Linked DNA regions of Homo sapiens: region 2 is linked to region 1. Evidence: fine-mapped expression QTL. A gene starts in region 1. The other region holds a variant in brackets. All regions are shown on one strand. Distances are between the middles of the regions. Region 1 holds the start of RNASE6 (ribonuclease A family member 6). Region 2 holds the start of LOC124903282 (a long non-coding RNA gene).

Region 1 (10,250 bases):
GGGGATGACCAGGAAAAGTACAGTAAACAAGGGAAAGCTTTCTCATGCAGATTTAAGTCAGTACCTTCTCCGCTGATAAGGGTTTCTTTTGATTTAGAGTCACCTTTCTCTTTCTGGTGAAGAAAGGGAGACATCCTTACAAATGAAGATTTCCCTTATAAACGCAAATGTCCCTTACAAAACAGCAACGTGCACTCTATTTTCAGAGTTTGTCTTGTGTATACTGCTTCTCAAAATAAGCAGTTCAAAATAATATTCATAATAAAGAAGCATATTTTGGGGTGGCATATTCTGGTCTCCTATAGTAGATTCTCACAAATACCTCATTTAAGTAACTCTTTAAAACTTGCTTTTATTAAAGGGTTAGCAGATGGTTGTTCAAAATAGTATAGGAGGAAAGTAGATTTAAGGGCAATTAGTAATAGCTTTGTGTTGTTTCTCTGGCTTTCCCGGTGGTCCACCCCTTATTTGGATAGCTGCATATTGACTCTCCTTAGGTATCTACCCTTCCTCTTTTGTGTGTAGTATTGGTGAGGCTGTCCACTAAGGTCTGCAGTCCCCTCTACTGAGCCAAGCGATGGTTATGAGATCCAAGCTAGCCTAACTGAAGTCTCATAGGAAACAAGAATATGTCACCCCAAAATATGCCTCCAGGTTGAAAGTCCTGTCAATTAGCATTTTTGCTGCTCTGCATCCTTACTGGCTTTGATGATGTCAGTTTTCACTGCATTTTAGTCATTCATGTAGGTGTGTAGTATTATCCCATTGTTTTAATTTGCAATTTTCTAATGACAGATTGAAGGGATTCACAGCCCACCAATATGGCAAAACTGCCCTTGCAGAGTTATGGAGTGTTGCAAGCCAGGCTCTAGGCAGAATTGCACATTAATCATAGCATGCTGGTACACTTCAACCCACTTCCCTGTAGCTTCTAATTTCCCAAGTAGCATGCTGACCACCTACTCCCCGATTGTTCCTATAGGTAGAATCTCCAATACTAGAATCATGAAATCTTTTTGCTTAAGAATTGCTTAAGGTGTTTTTCTGATCCTGAATTCCAGTGCAACAGCTAATGCTAACCAGTCTAAAGACCCCTACCAAGGAACTGGCTTGGCACATGAATGCTGAGTTTCTTCATGTCCCTGTCCCATGACTTCACCTCTCACTTCTTGATGAATCAGAAATGCTCACATTTTGGCCCTTGTCCAGACTCCTTAAAAACCCTATCCCCAAACCCAAAACCAAATTGTAGGTTACCTCCCATCTACTCATTTGGCTGCCCTATGAAAATTAAACTCTCTCTTTTTCAATCCCTGTTTTCTTAATATATCCATTTGTTGTGCATCAAGTAACAAATCTGTTATGATGATAGTGGCATGAAAATTATTTTAAACTGAAAATGTCTGAACAGACAGAAGCTGCAGAAAGAAACACTATTTAAACTTAACCAGAGCCTCTTGAAAATTCAGCTGCCATTGATCCCCTTCAAAGGTATTTTCCTGTTTGAAACGAGACAGCCCCTTAGCACTGGGATGTGTAAATTAGCTTCCATAAACCCCCATACAGGGAAACTTCCAGCCAGGAAGAAATCAATCTACCCATTTCTATTAGCATCAGAAAGCTTACTAGAACCTTCCATATTTTCCTTTTGAAGCCCCAACAAAAATCTTTTATTTTTTATTTTATTTTATTTTTGAGACAGACTTTCACTCTTGTTGCCCAGGCTGGAGTGCAGTGGCGCAACCTTGTCTCACTGCAACCTCCGCCTGCCAGGTTCAAGAGATTCTCCTGCCTCGGCCTCCCGAGTAGCTGGGATTACAGGTGCCCACCACCATGCCTGACTAAATTTTGTATTTTTAGTAGAGACGGGGTTTTACCATGTTGGCCAGGATGGTCTCAAACTCCTGACCTCAGGTGATCTGCCCACATTGGCCTCCCAAAGTGCTGGGATTACAGGTGTGAGCCACCATGCCCGGCCAAATCTTTTTTTAAAAAATAGAGATGGGGGTCTTGCTATGCTGTTGGTTTCAAACTCCATGCCTCAAGTGATCCTCCTGCCTCAGTCTCCCAGAATGTTAGGATTACAGGCATGAGCCACTGCACTTGGCCAAAAACACTTTTTTTAAAGTTGATATATAACTTTACCTCTGGCTATTCAGCAAGTTACGCATTATGTAATACTCCTGTGTGCATGTGTAAATAAACTTTGAATTTTCTCCTATTAATCTTTTTCTAATTCACAAGCTCCTTTACCACCACCTTTAAAACCTAAAATGATAGAGGAAAAGTTTTTCTCCAAACAATGTGATGCTGAACATCTTTTCATTGCTCATCTGCCATCTGTATATCTTGTTTGGTGAAGTGTTGGGGTACAGAGAATCATACTACAAACTATGATGCATGGCATTCTGAGCACTTTTGAATTAAAGAAATTAAATTAAAGAATTAAATTTAACTAGAATTAAAGAATTAAAGAAACCAAAACTTCTTAGAAGCTGCCTCAGGACCAAAGATGTTCTAATCTTCTCTCATTCCTCCCCCAGCTCTCAAATGCAGAGAGGAGCTCTCTCTGGAAGTTCCCTTGTCTGGATAAGGAAAACTTCTTCCAAGAAATGCAATTGTCTTAAGACCCCCCTTTCTAAAAATCTCATCAGATAACCAGGAAATATTAGCCACCTGAAAAAAAGAAGAGACTAGAAGTCTCTTCACACCACACTCAGATAGACCTTTCATCTATTCTTCCAAGAGCAGCTCCAAAAGAGTACCTAAGAGACTTTATCTGTATAATAAGGCAACCTTTGTTCATAGTGCAGTTCCACCCTTCACCTTCCCATAACTCGTCACCCTTCCATTCAGCTTCCAAAGAGACTCATTTACAAACTATTGTCTGCTATTTGGGGCCAGTTCCCTAAAAAATATTTAAAACTCCTCAAAATTGCCTACATTTTCCCCATGTTCCTCTCCCCTATGAAGAGAATACATGAATTTCAACTATTTAGTCTTTCTTTGAGTCTCATAATTTGTATGGTTCCCATGATTATGCACAGTAATAAATTTGTATGCCTTTTTCTCCTGTTAATCTGTCTATTGTCAGTTCATTTCAGAAGTTTTGAACCTTCAGAGGGAGAGGAAAAATTGTCTTTGCCCCATACCATTCAGATGTTTTGCCCATTTTTCAACTAGGTTGTTGGTTTTCTTATGGTTGAGGTTTTTTGAGTTCTTTGTATATTTTGGATAATGTTCTTTTATCAGATATATCTTTTGCAAATATCTTCTCTCAGTCTCTGGCTTATCTTTTTATTCTCTTAATAGTATCTGTTGCAGAGCAGAAGTTTTCAATTTTAATGAAGTTCCACTTATCAATATTTTTCTTTCATGGATTGTGCTTTTGGTATTGTATCTAAAAAATCATTGCCAAACTCAAGGCTGCCTAGATTTTCTTCTATGTTATTTTCTAGAATTTTTGTAGTTTTGTATTTTGCATTAGGTCTATGGTCCATTTTGAATTAACATTTGTGCCAGGCGCGGTGGCTCACGCCTGTAATCCCAGCACTTTGGGAGGCCGAGGTGGGCGGATCACCTGAGGTCAGGAGTTCGAGGCCAGCCTCACCAACATGGTGAAACCCTGTCTCTACTAAAAATACAAAATTAGCTGGGTGTAGTGGTGCATGCCTGTAATCCCAACTACTCCGGAGGCTGAGGCAGGAGAATCACTTGAACCTGAGCGGCAGAGGTTGTGGTGAGCTAAGATCATGCCATTGCACTCCAGCCTGGGCAACAAAAGCGAAACTCCATCTCAAAAAAAAATTGTGAAAGATATAAAGTACAGGTCTATGAAAATGTATGAAGTCTAACCTATGAAAAGATTTATTTTTTGCATGTGTACATTCAGTTCTACTACCATTTGTTGAAAAGACTAACTTTTCTCAATTGAAAATTGATCCTTTGTCACAGATTAGTTCACTGTATTTGTGTGGGTCTACCTCTGGGCTTTCTACTTGGTTCCATTGACCTATTTGTCTATTTTTCACCAATAACACACTGTCTTAATTGCTGTAGCTTTATAGTAAGTTTTGAAGTTGGGTCACGTCAGTTTTCTGACTTTGTTCTTCTTTTTCTGCATTGTGTTGACTATTCTGAATCTTTTTTTTTTTTGAGACAGAGTCTCGCTCTGTCACCCAGGCTGGAGTGCAGTGGTGCGATCTCGGCTCACTGCAAGCTCCACCTCCCGGGTTCAAGCGATTCTCGTGCCTCAGCCTCCCAAGTAGCTGGTACTATAGGCGCCCGCCACCAGGCCTGGCTAATTTTTTGTATTTTTAGTAGAAACGGGGTTTCACTGTGTTAGCCAGGATGGTCTTGATCTCTTGACCTCGTGATCAGCCTGCCTCGGCCTCCCAAAGTGCTGGGATTACAGGCGTGAGCCACCGTGTCCAACCTGAATCTTTTACTTTTATATAAACTTCAGAGTCAGTTTGTCACTATCCACAAAATAATGTGCTGGGATATTGATTGAGATTGTGCTGAATCTATAGATCAAGTTGAGAGGAAATGACATCTTAACATATTGAGTATTCCTACTCATGTACATGGAATATCTGTGCTTCCTCAATTTCTTTCATTAGAGTTTTAAATTTTTCCTCATACCAATTTTTACATAATGTATTAGATTTACACCTAAGTATTTCACTTTCTTTGGTGCAATATAAATGGTATTGTGTTTTAAATATCAAATTGCAATTGTTCATTGCTGGTATATAAGAAAGCAACTGACTTTTGTATATTAACCTTGTATCCTGCAACCTTGCTATAAACAGACATTATGTTTATTCTGCAGACATTTGGAGCCATAAAAGCATGGGGCAAGAGTGTTGTACTATTATATCTTGTTCAAAAAAAGACTAATCTGGAAGTAATATGTAGAATGGATTGGAAGGAGAAAAAAACAAGGCAAGGAGTCCATGTGGGAGGCTTTTATGTGAGCCCTCCATAAGACAATGAGTTTCTGAATAAGGGTGTTGCAGTACCAGTGAAAAGGTAAGAACAGATTCAAGAGGCAAATATCCTAAATTCGGCCTTCTTCTTCAGGCTTACAGGTCTTTTCATACACAATTCTGTCTTTGGGAGGCGCTTAACACTCTCTTCACCTAACTTCTAATTATTCCTCAAAATTCAGTTCAGGTGTTGTGCCCTCCAACAATCCTTCCCCTCTACTATCTTCCCGTAGCCTCCTGCAGTGTCCTCCATCACACTGTAAGTGCTATTTATATTAATATAATCTACTTGTCTATATACTTACCTGCCTGTCTCTAATCTCTTTCATTAAATCATGAGCTCCTGGCAGATCACGAGGTCAGGAGATAGAGACCATCCTGGCTAACACAGTGAAACCCCGTCTCTACTAAAAATACAAAAAAATTAGCTGGGCGTGATGGCAGGCACCTGTAGTCCCAGCTACTCGGGAGGCTGAGGCAGGAGAATGGCATGAACCCAGGAGGTGGAGCTTGCAGTGAGCAAAGATCGCACCACTGCACTCCAGCCTGGGCGACAGAGCAAGACTCCGTCTCAAAAAAAAAAAAAAAAAAAACTCATGAGCTCCTGAATTTGTGTAGCCTAGTACCTGGCCCAATAAGTATATGCATAAATGAATAATGTATTCACTTCTGTTGTAGGAACTTACAACATTACCAAGTATGTGGCAGGCATTATATCATATTTATGTGACATATTTTCTCTTAAGAAACAGGAATCATAAAGCTTCAAAAAAAAACACTGAAGCCTCAGATGAGGCAGGAAGCACTCATTCCATATCAGGAAGTGATCAGTTCCTCAAAACTGTGAGTTTTCAGTCATGTTGTTTCTTTAAGTTGGTTTAGCCTTCCTGTATACATGTGATAATGATACTGTTTTAAAGAACAGGTGTGAAAGTCTAAGAGTTTAATCCAGACTCTGCACAAGAAGTTAATCTGCCAAACCCTAGGATTCTCCTTCTGAAAGCTCAGAATATTTCTTCCCCTTCCCTATACACACAGGGCTCGAAGGGTTAGAGAAGAAAGGCAGACAACAGCTTCTGAGCTTTGGACTAATCACAGCCTCTGTTCTCAGCAGGAGCCCCAACACTGAGACCAGGTAAGAAAGAAAGCCTCAGGGCTGGAGCGAGTAGAGCAGTAAAGACGGCTGGGAGGTAGTGGTCAGATAGAGGGTAAATATTTCAGGAGGGAAGAGGGAAGAAACTTTCTGATATGACAGCCATCAAATGCATGAGTACTTGTGAAAGAAAATGGGATATGCCAATCAAAGGAGAGGTCATATTTCTGTTTCCTGGGCTTCAGGTTCTTCATAGAATTGTGAGACTATGTGAGAAAGAAGATTTTAAAGGGAGCTGTAAAATCTTAAAAGGCAAAATAAAAATCTAAATAGTTATGATTAAAAATTTTGCTCTTATTGCTTCTCCTACTATAACTATCTTCTCTCTTTCTACACAGAAAAGATGGTGCTATGCTTTCCTCTTCTTTTACTGCTGCTGGTTCTATGGGGACCAGTGTGTCCACTTCATGCTTGGCCTAAGCGTCTCACCAAGGCTCACTGGTTTGAAATTCAGCATATACAGCCAAGTCCTCTCCAATGCAACAGGGCAATGAGTGGCATCAACAATTATACCCAGCACTGTAAGCATCAAAATACCTTTCTGCATGACTCTTTCCAGAATGTGGCTGCTGTCTGTGATTTGCTCAGCATTGTCTGCAAAAATCGTCGGCACAACTGCCACCAGAGCTCAAAGCCTGTCAACATGACTGACTGCAGACTCACTTCAGGAAAGTATCCCCAGTGCCGCTATAGTGCTGCTGCCCAGTACAAATTCTTCATTGTTGCCTGTGACCCCCCTCAGAAGAGCGATCCCCCCTACAAGTTGGTTCCTGTACACTTAGATAGTATTCTCTAAGGCATCCACTGCATTTCCTTTCATTTGACATAGCTTCTGTTACAATTGCATCCATGTTTTCTTTTCTTTTGTTGATTTTCTTGTTCCCGTAGAAGAAAGAAGAAAGGTGTTTGGAGAATTCGAGTGCCTAGGATGCCAGACCAGAGTTGAGACAAAAAGAAATAAGATTATTTTCTGCTTTGTAGTTCTGTACTTTTCGAGAGAAGGGAATAGGGAAGACAGCAAAGAAAGATTCAGATTTCTAACCCTGCAACTTTTGCCAAGCTTTATTGCCCTGTGTTCACAGCAATAAAACCACTTCCTGCTGCATTCTAATGAGTGTGTGTTTGAGATCCGCTTTCAAAGCATTGTTGACCGGTACTCAGAGGAACACTGTTTTGACTTTAAGTCCCTAGAAAACTTTTGAGGCCTCCCTGGGGCCCCACTTCCTTGCCCACAAGAAAGGACAGCGTTTGGGACTTTGGAGCATTTCTTCAAACTCTGCTCATGACTTTATATATTCCCCTGGAAACCATTGTCTATGCTTAATTGGAGGTAGTACTGATACCTCAAAGACAGTTGATGATAACTCACACATAGATTCTGTCACTGGCAACTGAAGGATCCTATGTCTTTTCTATTTGTTTCCGTTTTTAATCAGATAATGTTTTAAATATAAGGTGATAGTAGTAGTAATAGGGATAATAATCCATTGTAGTAACCTTAGGGTCAATCCTCCATTATTTATTGAAATGGATAAATAGAAAGCATAGATCAAGAAAAAAGCACTAGGCTTGTCGTGGTGGCTCACGCCTGTAATCCCAGCACTTTAGGAGGCTGAGGCAGGTGGATCGTCTGAGGTCAGGAGTTCAAGACCAGCCTGGCCAACATGGTGAAACGCTATCTCTACTAAAGATACAAAAAAAGTAGCTGGGCGTGGTGGCAGTGCCTGTAATCCCAGCTACTCGGGAGGCTGAGGCAGGAGAATCGCTTGAACCCAGGAGGTAGAAGTTGCAGTGAGCAAATATTGTGTCACTGCACTCCAGCCTGGGCAACAGAGTGAGACTCCCATCTCAAAAACAAAAAAAGAAAAAGAGAAAAGCACCAGGAGACCCAATGCAGTGGCTCACACCAGTAATCCCAGCACTTTGGGAGGCCGAGGCAGGCAGACGACTTGAGGCCAAGAGTTTGAGACCAGCCTGGCCAATGTGGTGAAACCCCATCTCTACTAAAAATACAAAAAATTAGCCAGACATGATGGCAGGAGCCTGTAATCCCAGCTAATCAGGAGCCTGAGGCAAGAGAATCGCTTGAACCTGGGAGGCAGAGGCTGTAGTGAGCCGAGATTGCACCACTGCACTCCAGCCTGGGTGACAGAGCGAAACTCCCGTCTCAAAAAAAAAAAAAAAAAAAGGAAAGAAAGAAAGAGAAAAAAGCACTAGGAAACTAAAAACATTCTAGTCCTATGTAAATACTGAAATACCACAGAAGTATTGGGGTTTTGGAACAGAACCTGAACTAAGCCATTTCACAGAAGGAACTTCAGTTTCCTTGTCAACCTCTAGAGTCATTGGGCTAGTGGGCCAGTGTAAATCCCAAGTGCTTTGTACAGTGATGAGTCTTCAAGTAGCAGCCAAAGACAATGAAGTTTTTTTGAAAAGGCTACATATTGTAGTGTCTTCATTACCTGTGCTGCAAATGATTCTTTCCAAGCCAGACTATTAGTTTAATAGATATGCTAACTCAGCTCACCTTCCTTTACGCTACACATTTATGTCATATCTTAGGAACAAAGAATGGAATATGAGGTTTCAGGAGCCTGGATTCCAGGGTGATGACTGATCAAGGGCCCTCCCATTGGGAAGAGATTAGCAGGTCAGGGCAATATGGCACCTAAGAAGGTGGGTACCTTATAGAGGGAATCCTACAGTGGGACTTGAGTGCTCTAACTCAAAGCAGCTTTCAGTTGTATTCAGCTTTAAGCCATGTTGCATTTACATTTTATTGTCTCAGAGTCTTCATGTAAAGTGTGGTGGAATGGCAGGGAGAATCTGTGCTCACGTTTGGTATGAACAAGTATACGAAAGTAGCAGCATCTGAAAGGAAAGGGGTTGAATGGATTTATATGAACATTACCTGGAAATTGCCAGAGATTCTTAAAGGTAATCTAGTAAAACCAAACAACTCAATTGCTCATGCTATTGTTATTTATATAGTAAAGGTATCTCATGGATTGAATACATCTGTGCTGCAAAAATTTTTCAACTGTCAGAAACATTAGGGAACATGAAATGTTACTTAAAATTAGTGAAATAAATTGTGAGGTCTAAAATACTGCAAATATTTTGTAACAAATGGTTAAAAACAAAAATATAATGAGTGCCATCTTTTGAAGAGATTTGCAGCAACAATATCTAATCTTCCCCACCCTCCCATGACAAACCTATCCCCAACAACAATTAGAGTCACTTTTTGTTGCTGATCAAGGAAAAGGCAACAATGAGGGTAACTTTTCAACAATCTATTATGCCCAAACTTTTAGAAGGTATTAGTTCTAAACAAGTGGAATAGACTGGGATGGAATCTCTCATAGATTTATTTTCTTTTCTACATGCAGTTATGTATTGCAGAAGTTCAATACATAATTGCTAAGAAGTTCACTTAGATATATCCCTAGAATATACAGAATGATCCCAAAGCAGGCAAAGCTTAGAAGTGAATTCAGCAGATGTTCTAGCAGCTCTCAACTCTGGCTTCATATTAGATTCACCTGGGAGCTTTTAGAAAAATACCAATGACGGGATCTACTAAATAAATTTTATGAACATTTAATGAACAATTAAATGAATATCTGGGGGTGAGACCTGGGCTCTAATGGATGTTTGTTAAAGATCCCCATGTAATTGTAATGGGCAGCAAATATTGGTAACAACTGTTGATGCAGGGGTAAGCAAACTACATCTGCAGACCTCTGGCCTGCCGCGCCTATTTTATACTGCCTGGAGTAGTGTGGTTTTTACTTTTATTTTTTTTTTTGAGATGGAGTTTGGCTCTGCCGCCCAGGCTGGAGTGCAATGGCTGGATCTCGGCTCACTGCAACCTCCACCTCCTGGATTCAAGCGATTCTCCTGCCTCAGCCGCCTGAGTAGCTGGGATTACCCGCCACCACGCCCAGCTAATTTGTTTGTTTGTTTGTTTGTTTGTTTGTTTGTTTTTTGAGACGGAGTCTCATTCTGTCGCCCAGGTTGGAGTGCAGTGGCGCGATCTCAGTTCACTGCAAGCTCTGCCTGCCGGGTTCACGCCATTCTCCTGCCTCAGCCTCCCGAGTATC
Region 2 (10,250 bases), 64 kb before region 1:
GTGTATAGCTCCCAGTCCGGAGTGGCCATCAGATGATCTGACAGATCTGGTCTGCTGGAATAGACTGCATCAAGAATTTCTAAACAATTATGCTCCAGTTCATAGTTGGACTCAGTGGCTGGGAGCAAGGTGGCAGGATTCAAGACTGTGGTGGTTTGGAGAAAACATTTCTGTTATCTAATAGGCTGGCTTGGTATTTGCCCATATGCCCCGCTATCATCCAGTAACCTCCCTTTTGTTACAATAAGGTTAACACTTGATAAGGCACAAATGCAGTAATGGGCTGTCCTAGGGTGAATTTTTCTGCTTCCTGTAAGATATCACACGTAGCTGCCACGGCCTGAAGACAAGGTGGCCATCCTCTGGTAATCTGCTCCAGTTGTTTGGGAAAGTAGGCTATGGGTTGTGGGGAATTCCCACGTAGTTGAATTAGTATTTCCTGTCCTGTGCCCTGGTTTTCATGGATATAGAGTCTAAATAGCTTTCAAGAATTGGGCAGTCCTAATGCTGGAGCTGACACTATTTTTTTTTTTTTTTTTGATGGTATCAAATGCCTGAAGGCATTCAGCCATCCAGTTTAGGGCTCCTGAATCTAATCCCTTTAGAGCCTTGTAGAGAGGTTTGACTATGAGTCCAAAATTAGGGATTCAGATTCAGCAGAAACCTGCCACACCTAAAACCCCCCACAGTGTCTTCCATTCCCAGGGGCCTTTATTGCTGCTATCACCTGTTTCTGGTTGGACATCAAGCTCTGCTTTCCTTGTTTTTAGTCAGAAGCCAAGATAGGTCACTTCTTGTTTACAAATCTGAGTTTTCTGAGGTGATATGTTACGTCCGTATTATATCAAATAATTTAAGATTAAGATAGTGTTAGATAGGCACCTCTCATAGTCTTGGCTTGCGATTAACAAGTCATCCAAGTATTTTAGCAGAACCCCATCATCTAGTTGAAAATCTCTGAAGCCCTTTGCCAATATTTTGCCAAAGATGGTGGGTGAGTTTTTAAAACCTTAAGAAAATACAGCCTAACAATATTGGAAGGTGTTTTTTGTTTCCAGGTCTTGCCACTCAAAGGTGAACAGCATCTGGTCCCTCTCTTCAATCAGGATGCAAAAAAAAAAAAAAAAAAAAAAGTATCTTTTAAGTCTAATACCGAAAACTACCCATACTGCCCTGGTTTATCAGTTAGTAAGGTGTAAAGGATGGGCATAGTTGGGTGAATGTCTTGAACAATGTCATTAATGGTTCCCAAATCTTGTACAAATCAATATTCATTTGAGTGTGGGTTTTTAACAGTCAGGATAGGGGCATTGTATGGAGATCTGTAAGGACATATTTGTCCATTTTTTAGAAACTTCTGTAATATAGGTTGTATCCCCTCTAAAGCCTCTCTTTTTAGAGGGCACTGTGTTTGGGGAATACCTTAGCCCCTTCATTTATTTCTGTGCACACAGGCTGTGTATTTTCAGCACTACCTGTGGTCCCATCTGCCCTCATGACTACTTACTTGCTCACAGATTGCTGGCAGGAGGCATTCTTTTTCTTCCTCGGGGTGTGTGAGCAGCATCTGCAGCTGCAAAGCTTGCTCTGGCAGGACCTGCAGATGAAGTTGTTGTTTTTCTGGAGAAAAACGTCACATGGCAATTTAGTTTACAAAGCAAATCTCACTCCAGCAAAGGAATTTGGTATTCCAGCATATAGAGGAAACTGTGTCTCAGCTCCAGATCTCTGTGTCCGGCAGTCTCCAGACTCTCCAGGGTCTGGAGAAAGGCTGTTTGCTGCATCTTGCCAGCGACAACCATCACAGGCACTGTTTTCCTAGTACTTTCAGTTTCTTTAGTGTTTCTACCTGAATAAGTCACACCAGTATTGATTAAAAAGTCAATCAATTTGTTCCCCATTGTCAATCGTACCTGAGGTTCCTGTGGGGAAATTACAACCTGCTCCAAAAGATTTGGGCCTCCTTCACTATCTGAGCTACAGTCCTGCTTTACCATCAGCCAGTATGTTTCTTCTCTGTCACTGTGTCTCCCTTCTTCTGGTTTCCCTGTCTTTTCTTTAATTTGGGGCACTCAGATTTCCAATGACCTTCCTCCTTGCAGGGGGCAGACTGATCATTACCTAGAGTTTTGTTCTGGCCACCTCCCTGTGCCTGGTTTTTCCTTTTCGGATATACATTCTTTCCACTAATTCCAAGTATATCATGGCTTGCTTTAGCTTTTTGGCCTTCCTGGCATTATATACTCTGAAGGCAATGTCCAGCAGTTGGGAAAGGTTTATTCCAAATACCCCCTCCAGTTTCTGCAGTTTTCGTTTAATATTGGATGAAAGTCACGTTTACCATTCTCATATTCTCAGGAGCTTCTGGATCATAGTCCATACACTTGTGGTAAACCTGGTAAATGCACTCCAGAAATTCACAGGGGTTCTCATCTGCCTTTGGGAGAACTGCCCTGGCTTTATTTAAGCTCTTTTACATTCTTCTCTTTAACCCTGCCAACACATGCTTTTTATAATGACTGGACAGGGCCATTCCTCCATTGTTGGGGTCCCAAGTAAAATCTGCAAGTGGAGCAGCCATTTCTATTCCTTCCCCATCCTGGGGAGAGGAGCTGACACCTTGGCCTCTCCGGGTCCTGGGCTACATTTGGTAATCCTGGGAGGGCTGGTGCCCCCAGTACCACATGGGAGGGGAAATTTAAGATATTTATGAGGCCCATATCATCAATATCCTCTTCCTTTTGGGTCTTACTATCTGGAAAGAGAAATCTCTTTTTCCCTTTTCTCTACGTCATTCACATAGACCCCTCATGTGCTGAGTCTTTGTTATGTAATAAATGCTTAAACACATGGAATCTCATTTCATTTCCCAGATCTTAGGCAAAATAACGCCAACTGTAATAAGGTGTACTAATGTAAATCACTGTTCAGTAGCCACCATTTTTCAGATTCCAACACATACATAGGCCAAACAGTGTTACAATGAAAAAAAATCATTATCTTTTTTGTTATGAGTTCATAGCTATAAGCTTTCCAATAAGCCAATATACAGCCCAATGGCCACTTAGATGGAATGGAAGTCAAGTTGCCCATTCTCAGGGGAGAGATCAAAAGAACACAAACACACAGATCAACACAGAGTACTCCTGAACCAATTCCTGTAGAAGGAGACTGGGAAGTTAATAAATCTTAGGCTAACTGATACTGCAAAAGACCTGTGTCAGGTCCAAATGGCATAAAGCCCAAATGGCAGAGACAGAGGATTTCTAGCATGCAAACTGGTTTGATTTACCCAGTCTTGAATCCTGTCAACTTCCTCAACTATCATTTTCCTTATACTAATAAAGCATTGCAGGCAGCTGATGCCACAGAGGGGGAAGGAGGGAAAAGATGTTCTTGGCAGCTGCTGGGACAACCCTAGAATCCCAGCTGGGAGGTCAGCTAGCCACGAGCAGCTAATCCTCATGAGAAGTTGTTGCTCTGCCTGGTAGCATGAATGAGTAAGCCCTGGCATGATGCCACAGCCAATTGCTCCATCCATCGGAAACCAGGCACGCTAGACCAGTAGAGACATATAGCCCCATGCTGGGTGATAAAAAATGTAACCAAACTGTTGGAAGTAAGTGCTCGGTGCCACAGAGTGAAAATAGCACTCAGGCAAAAATTTTCTCAGCAAAGCAATTTACTTCTATAGAAGGGTGCATCTCTCAGATGGAGCAATGGTGAGAGCACACCAGACAAGGGAGGAGAAGGGCGTCTTATTCCTAATGCAGCTAGTCCCTACTGCTGTGTCTTTCCCCTGTTGGCTAGGGTTGGACCACACAGTCTAAGCTAATTCCAGTTGGAAATTTTAAAGAGAGTGAGTGTATGAGCTGGAGTGGTGGGGTGAGTAGTTT[C/T]ATCAGGGAAGGACAGTTACAGAACAGGAGAGTAAGGATGCCTAAGGACAGAACAGGTGATAGAGGCTAGGAGGGGGTTGTTTACTGAAACTAGAGGCAAGGAGGTGTAAAGAACAAGGAAGTTAAACTTCAAAATGGAGAACAAAGAACAGGGAAGCTGAACATACTGACGTATTTGTTCTTTGAAGAGGAACTCAGAACTCATTGTACTTAAATGATTTTTTTCTCCCTCTTGAATTTTTTTTTTTTTTTGAGATGGAGTCTTGCTCTGTCACCCAGGCTGGAGTGCAGTGGTGCAATCTAGGCTCACTGCAAGCTCCGCCTCCTGGGTTCACGCCATTCTCCTGCCTCAGCCTCCTGAGTAGCTGGGATTACAGGCACCCGCCACCACGCCCGGCTGATTTTTTTGTATTTTTTAGTAGAGACAGGGTTTCACCATGTTAGCCAGGATGGTCTCAATCTCCTGACCTCATGTTCTGCCTGCCTTGGCCTCCCAAAGTGCTGGGATTACAGGCATGAGCCACCACGCCCAGCCACCATCTTGAATTTTAAAGGAAGTTAACAGGCTAACTCTGAAGAGGAATTTACTGTATCCTACAATCTCCCCCCTTTCAATTTTCATAGGCCTTCCTCTTCAAACCTTTTTAACATGTCTTGGCTTTGCTGCTTGACTTGATCCTCTAAAAGAAGAAAGCTTTTCTGAATAAGGTGGAGGAAAGTTAAGGGAGGTTTTAGTAGGTGCTGTTTCTTTGCACTGCCCCACGGACGCATGGTATGACACAATACCCAACAAGAATGAGTACACCTATTACGGCTGCAAGAGAAGTAAGAATCGAGGCTATGATCTTTTCCATCTACTGAACCACCTTTCTAGCCATCCTGAGAAAGGGTTATTGACTCCAGAATCTTTAACTAATTCATTGGATAAAGCAGTAAGTCCTTGTAAGACCCTTGTTATGCTCCCAGTGGGGGCAGTGTTGCTTGGGATAAAGGTACAGCCCTGAGTTTTAATCATAACACCAACACTGCCTTTTTCAGCTAATATCACATCTAGGGCCATTCTGTTTTCCCAGGCCATCTGGCTAGTGGGCCCCAATTGTTCTGCTATCCCTTTGACAGCATCCCTGGTGTAATTAATAAACCACTGCTAATTATAATAGACGTAATTTATCCAATCTATGTTTTTATTAATTGTCACCCACAAAATCCTGCAGCTATTTAATCTTGACTCAAATCCTGCAGCTATTTAATCTTGATCTTTAAATTTATCTGGTACTCCTCATGGGACTCCAATTGCATCTAAATAAATGTGGGAGTTGAAAGACCCATAAGGAGCTTCCCTTGTTTTATGATGTTGTATTTTTCCTCTCTCTGGTTGATGAAATGCTAGGGTGGAAGGGATAGCCAATTAAACTAGAGCACAAGTGCTGCTCCAGTTACTTGGCAGAGAGTCCAGTAAAGGTCCACCACAATACCACCATACATATGCTTGGGGATGAACAAGGGCTGACTGATTGGTAAGCTCTTGGAAAGTCTTAAGCTCACTGCATCTTTTTAGGTCTCCAAGGAATGCTAAGTTTCCTCCCTGTAGTGAGAGATATGAAGTGAACTTAGCGTCAGGGGACAGAAGCTGAGTGGACCTTGGGGGCTGACCTGCAGGGTATTGAACCTCAGGATATAGCAGAGAGAGCTTGACACGACTTTTTACCCCAGGCTGTGTAATCCTGGAAAAAAGTAACCATACAGCCCATGCCTAGTAGACTAAAGGACTATCCTAATGGAAAGGGGACAATCTGGGCTTCTGGTCTGCCGTGCGCACAAGCATAACAAATGCTTTTGTTTAAAGTGTGGATGGAATGTTTGATCCACTCCAACCAGGCATTAGCATCTTGATATTCTGTCTCAATTGCCAAAGTTTGTTTTAGGTCTTTAACTTCTATAATAACTACCTTGGTCTTGTCATTAGATGGAGGAGAACAACAGTTTTGTTGTGAGAGCTTCTGGAAGAAGGCTTAAGGGAAGGTGTAGGCGGCAGAGGATCAATGAATTGTGTTTCAAAGGATCTGATAGGGTCTGTTCCTGAAACCTCAGCCCCCACACCATAAAACCGGCTTAAAGAAGGGAACCGGCTTAGAGAAGGGGAAGAGCTTTGAGGGTTTGAGATAATAACCTGTATTGGATTGCACGGTTCAGCTGACAGCTAGGTGAAGCTGTTCCTTTAGTAAAGTGAATATATGACTTTAGGAAATTACAACCACTGGTTGGGGCAGCTCATCCTTGCTCTTTAGTGGTCCACAGAATGTTGGACCAACTGTGGCATAAAAGCTCTGTCTTGCAGGAGCAAGACTCCCAGCTGATACTGGGGTCTTTATTGAAATCTCTCCAGACTAAATGATCCCCATTCACTAATGTCCAGTCTGAGGAGAGCCGGGAAGGACAGAGGTACTTTTCTGAATTGGAGAGCTGTCTTTAACTTGACAAGTCTCCACAAGGTATAACAAGGCAAGCATCAAATGTAATAGTTTGAGGTGAAATTGACTTTGTTACATTAATAATGAGGTGGTCAGCAATAGAATGAGGAAAGAAGAAGGAGTAATAAGAGAGTTAAATTTTTCTTAGCTTGGCTCACGCCTGTAATCCCAGCACTTTGGGAGGTCGAGACAGGTGGATCGTTTGAGGTCAGGAGTTCAAGACCAGCCTGGCCAACATGGTGAAACCCCATCTCTACTAAAAGTACAAAAATTATACAGGCGTAGTGGTACACGCCTGTAATCCCAGCTACTCGGAAGGCTGAGGCGGGAGAATTGCTCGAACCCGGGAGGTGGAGGTTGCAGTGAGTGAAGATCGCACCACTGCACTCCAGCCTGGGCAACAGAGCAAGACTCTGTCTCAAAAAAAAAAAAAATTTCTTAGCTTTAGTTTGGTAGGGTTTTCCCCTGGGACTATGGCCCACGACTCTGGAGGGGGCGGCACTTTCTTGACTTGGGTGTGATAGGTCCATCCTTTTTCTGCTGTCTGGACTGCGCTTTCAGTAGTTAGGAGCACTAGATAAGGTCCTTCCCAGGCCAGTTCCAGCTTTTCCTCCTTCTAGTTTTTGATGAGGACTTGATCCCCGGGCTGATTTCGATGTACTGGGAACTCCAGGGATGGTGCCTGTGCTAAAAGACCTTTAGTTCTAAGGGAAGAGAAAGTGGAAGATAAACCAAGTATATAATGTCTGAGAAACTGATCTTTTGTTTCGAAGGTGGAAATGTCAGCAGTGGAGTGTAAATAGGGCAACCCATATAGCATCTCATATGGGGATAGGCCAACATCTTTTTGAGGGGTGGTTCAGATTCCTAGCAAGGCAATGGGAAGGCATTTAGTCCATGGCAACTGAGTCTTTAAGACTAATTTGGTTAAGTGACTCTTCACGGTTTGATTTATTCTTTCTACTCTTCCCGATGAAGGTGGGTGCCAAGGAGTATGGTATTCCCACGTTATGTCTAGTGCTTGGGCTAATTTCTTAATGATATGTGCAGTGAAATGAGTTCCATTATTTGAATTAATATTTTCAATTTATTTGCCCAGATCCATTGGAGGAACCACTATCTATGACCGCTATAGTCTTATGAAATGTATTTCTGAAGTAATAAGACTTGAAAGCCAAAATTACTCCTTGATCCATGGGCTGCAGAACTGCAGAACGGATGTTGTGTGAGCAGGCATGGAAACTATGGAAATTAATATCTTTGAACATCTCCATCAGAGGCCTTAGGTAACCAAGTGCATTGCCAATCAGCAGTAGTATTTTGAAAGGAATCTTTTTTTTCTGAGCAGGTCTCAATAATGAGCTTAAAATATTCAGTAAACCATGATGTAAACAGATGTGCTGTCAATCAGGCTTTGTTGTTCCATTTATAGAGACAGGCAAAGTAGATTCAGCATAATTCCTAAGGGCCCTAGGATTTTCAAATGATACATGAGCACTGGCTTCAACCTGAAGTCTCCAGTGGCAGGTGCCCCCTGACAAGAGAGTTGGCCTGCCCTCTGAAGCTCTGAAACCAGGCACTGACTCCTCCTCTCTAGCTATGGGAGTCCCAGATGGCACCTTCTTCCACTATAAAGCTGTCTCATCTACACTGAAAATCTGTTGTTTAGTGTGGCCACCTTCATCAATGATCTTATCTAGAGCTTCTGGAGAACTTGCTGCAGCTTCTCCTCAGGACTTGCTGCTTCATCCTGCACTTTTATGTTATGGAGATGGCTTCTTTCCTTAAACCTCACGAACCAACCTGTGTTGGCTTACAACTTTTCTTCTGTAGCTTCCTCACCTCTCTCAGCTTTCAGAGAATTGAAGGGCCTGATCTGGTTTTGACTTTGGCATAAGAGAATGTTGTGGCTGGTTTGGTCTATCCGAACCACTGAAATTTTCCCCGTGTCAACAACAATAAGGCTGTTCTGCTTTCTTATCACTTGTGTGTTCACTAGAGCAGAACTTTTAATCTCCTTCAAGAACTTTTCCTTTGCATTCGCAACTTGACTAACTGGCTCAACAGCATTTGGCCTATCCTAGCTTTTGACACGCCTTCCTCACTAAGCTTAATCATTTCTAGATTTTTAAAGTAAGAGACATGTGACTCTTCCTTTCACTTGAACACATAGAGGTCATTGTAGGGTTACTAAATGGCTCAGGGAATAGGGAGTCCTAAAGACAGGAAGGTGGGGAAGCCGCCAATCAGTGGAGCAGTCAGAACACACACATTTATCAATCAAGTTTGCCATCTTCAGTTTGTGGCACCCCAAAATAATTACAATAGTAACATCAAAGATCACTAACCACAAATTACTGTCAGATATAGTCATAGAAGAAGTTTGAAATATTCTAATAATTACCAAAATGTGACACATGGAAGCACTAAATGCTGTTGAAAAAATGGCGCTGACAGATTTGCTCAATGCAGGGTTGCCATAAGCCTTCAACTTGTAAAAAACACAGTATCTACGAAGTGCTATAAAGGGAAACACAACAAAACGAGGTGTGCCTGCACAACCAATGCCCAACTGTGTGTACCGCCTGAAGGAAAATGTTTCAAAGGTATCACAACTTTTTAGTCTGGAAATCTGAACAATATTTTGGTTTTTCACAGTGAGCATGTGGAACTTATATAACCAAAAAAGTAAAGTTGTATTTGAATGCATGTGGGCTACAAGTAAAAAGGAAGATGAAATAACAGTTTTATAAAGCGGAAAGATTTATGGGTCTAACTCTGTGTCATATTTAGATTTTCTAATAAATGGGTATAGGAACAGAAGGAGAGACAGAGTTAGATAAAAGGTGTAGACGGTAGGCTTTGCTGCTTCGAGAACTTGGTGCTGATTAGAGGTGTGATTGCATTCATGGTAATAGGGATGAGTGTCACGAACTGCTGTGTGTTCTGCTGGTGAGCTTCACTGCAATACTGCACTAACCAGTGAGTGTAAGCCTGCAGCACAGCCAGGGACTGAGCACGTACATCAATGAGGTCAGGTTTCAATACTGATGGCACATCAGTTTCAATGTTGCACAATTTTTTTTTTTCTTTTTTGAGACGGAGTCTTGCTCTCTTGCCCAGGCTGGAGTGCAGTGGCACGTTCTCAGCTCACTGCAACCTCTCCCTCCCTGGTTGAAGTGATTCTCCTGCCTCAGCCTCCCGAATAGCTGGGACTACAGGCACGTGCCACCGTGCCCACCTAATTTTTTGTGTTTTTAGTAGAGACAGGGTTTCACCATGTTATCCAGGATGGTCTCAGTCTCCTGACCTTGTGATCCACACACCTCGGCCTCCCAAAGTGCTGGGATTACAGGCGTGAGCCACCGCACCTGGCTCAATGTTGTACAACTTTATCTGAGATCCATACAGAGTGACTTTGACCAAACTCTCCACAACTGTGAGGGCATCATTGAACCATGCAGCAAACACATCCCCAATAAAGTACCCGGCCAGGTGGCCCATGGCCTGCAGCAGGGAGCTCAAGTCTCTCAGGGAGCAGTGCAGCCACCAGCAGTCGTTCTCTGCCATGATGTTCAACCTGTGTCCTGACCCTGATGTAACTATAACTTGCTGTAATCCCAAATAAACTTCTAAATTGCCCTGAAGAACTGGGAACAGTGTGGACAACGTGTGCGTGGGCAGGAGCTCCATCACTTTGACCGCCACCTCCAAGCTCTGCCGTAAGTACCGCTGTCACTCCATCTGCTGATCGTCATCCAGAGTCTCGTCATCCAACTCCTCCAGCTGGCCTGGTTGTATCTGAACTGGATTTGATTCAACACCTCTGTGGGGAGGAGCACCAGGGCATCTTCGTACCTGTTGAGAACTGCTTCCTTGTCTT

What was found. PIP is the estimated chance that this variant, and not a neighbour inherited with it, causes the effect.
Region 2: its variant is fine-mapped to the expression of RNASE6 in whole blood (TOPMed, PIP above 0.99). The same link has a PIP of 0.9 or more in blood mononuclear cells.

The regions. Positions count from the first base shown.
Region 1 is chr14:20,775,213-20,785,462 of GRCh38, forward strand. It overlaps RNASE6 (ribonuclease A family member 6), which reads left to right and starts at 6,056. Exons shown (of 2, transcript NM_005615.5): 1 at 6,056-6,126; 2 at 6,483-7,255. The coding sequence starts at 6,488. The coding sequence ends at 6,940. All of the region lies in intron 1 of LOC107984671 (a long non-coding RNA gene), which reads right to left. RefSeq lists enhancers at 1-326, 7,131-7,200.
Region 2 is chr14:20,711,574-20,721,823 of GRCh38, forward strand. LOC124903282 (a long non-coding RNA gene) reads right to left here and starts at 4,150. Exons shown (of 2, transcript XR_007064061.1): 1 at 1,508-4,150; 2 at 1-145. It also overlaps the pseudogene RANBP20P. The variant C/T (reference allele first, on the strand shown) is at 3,897.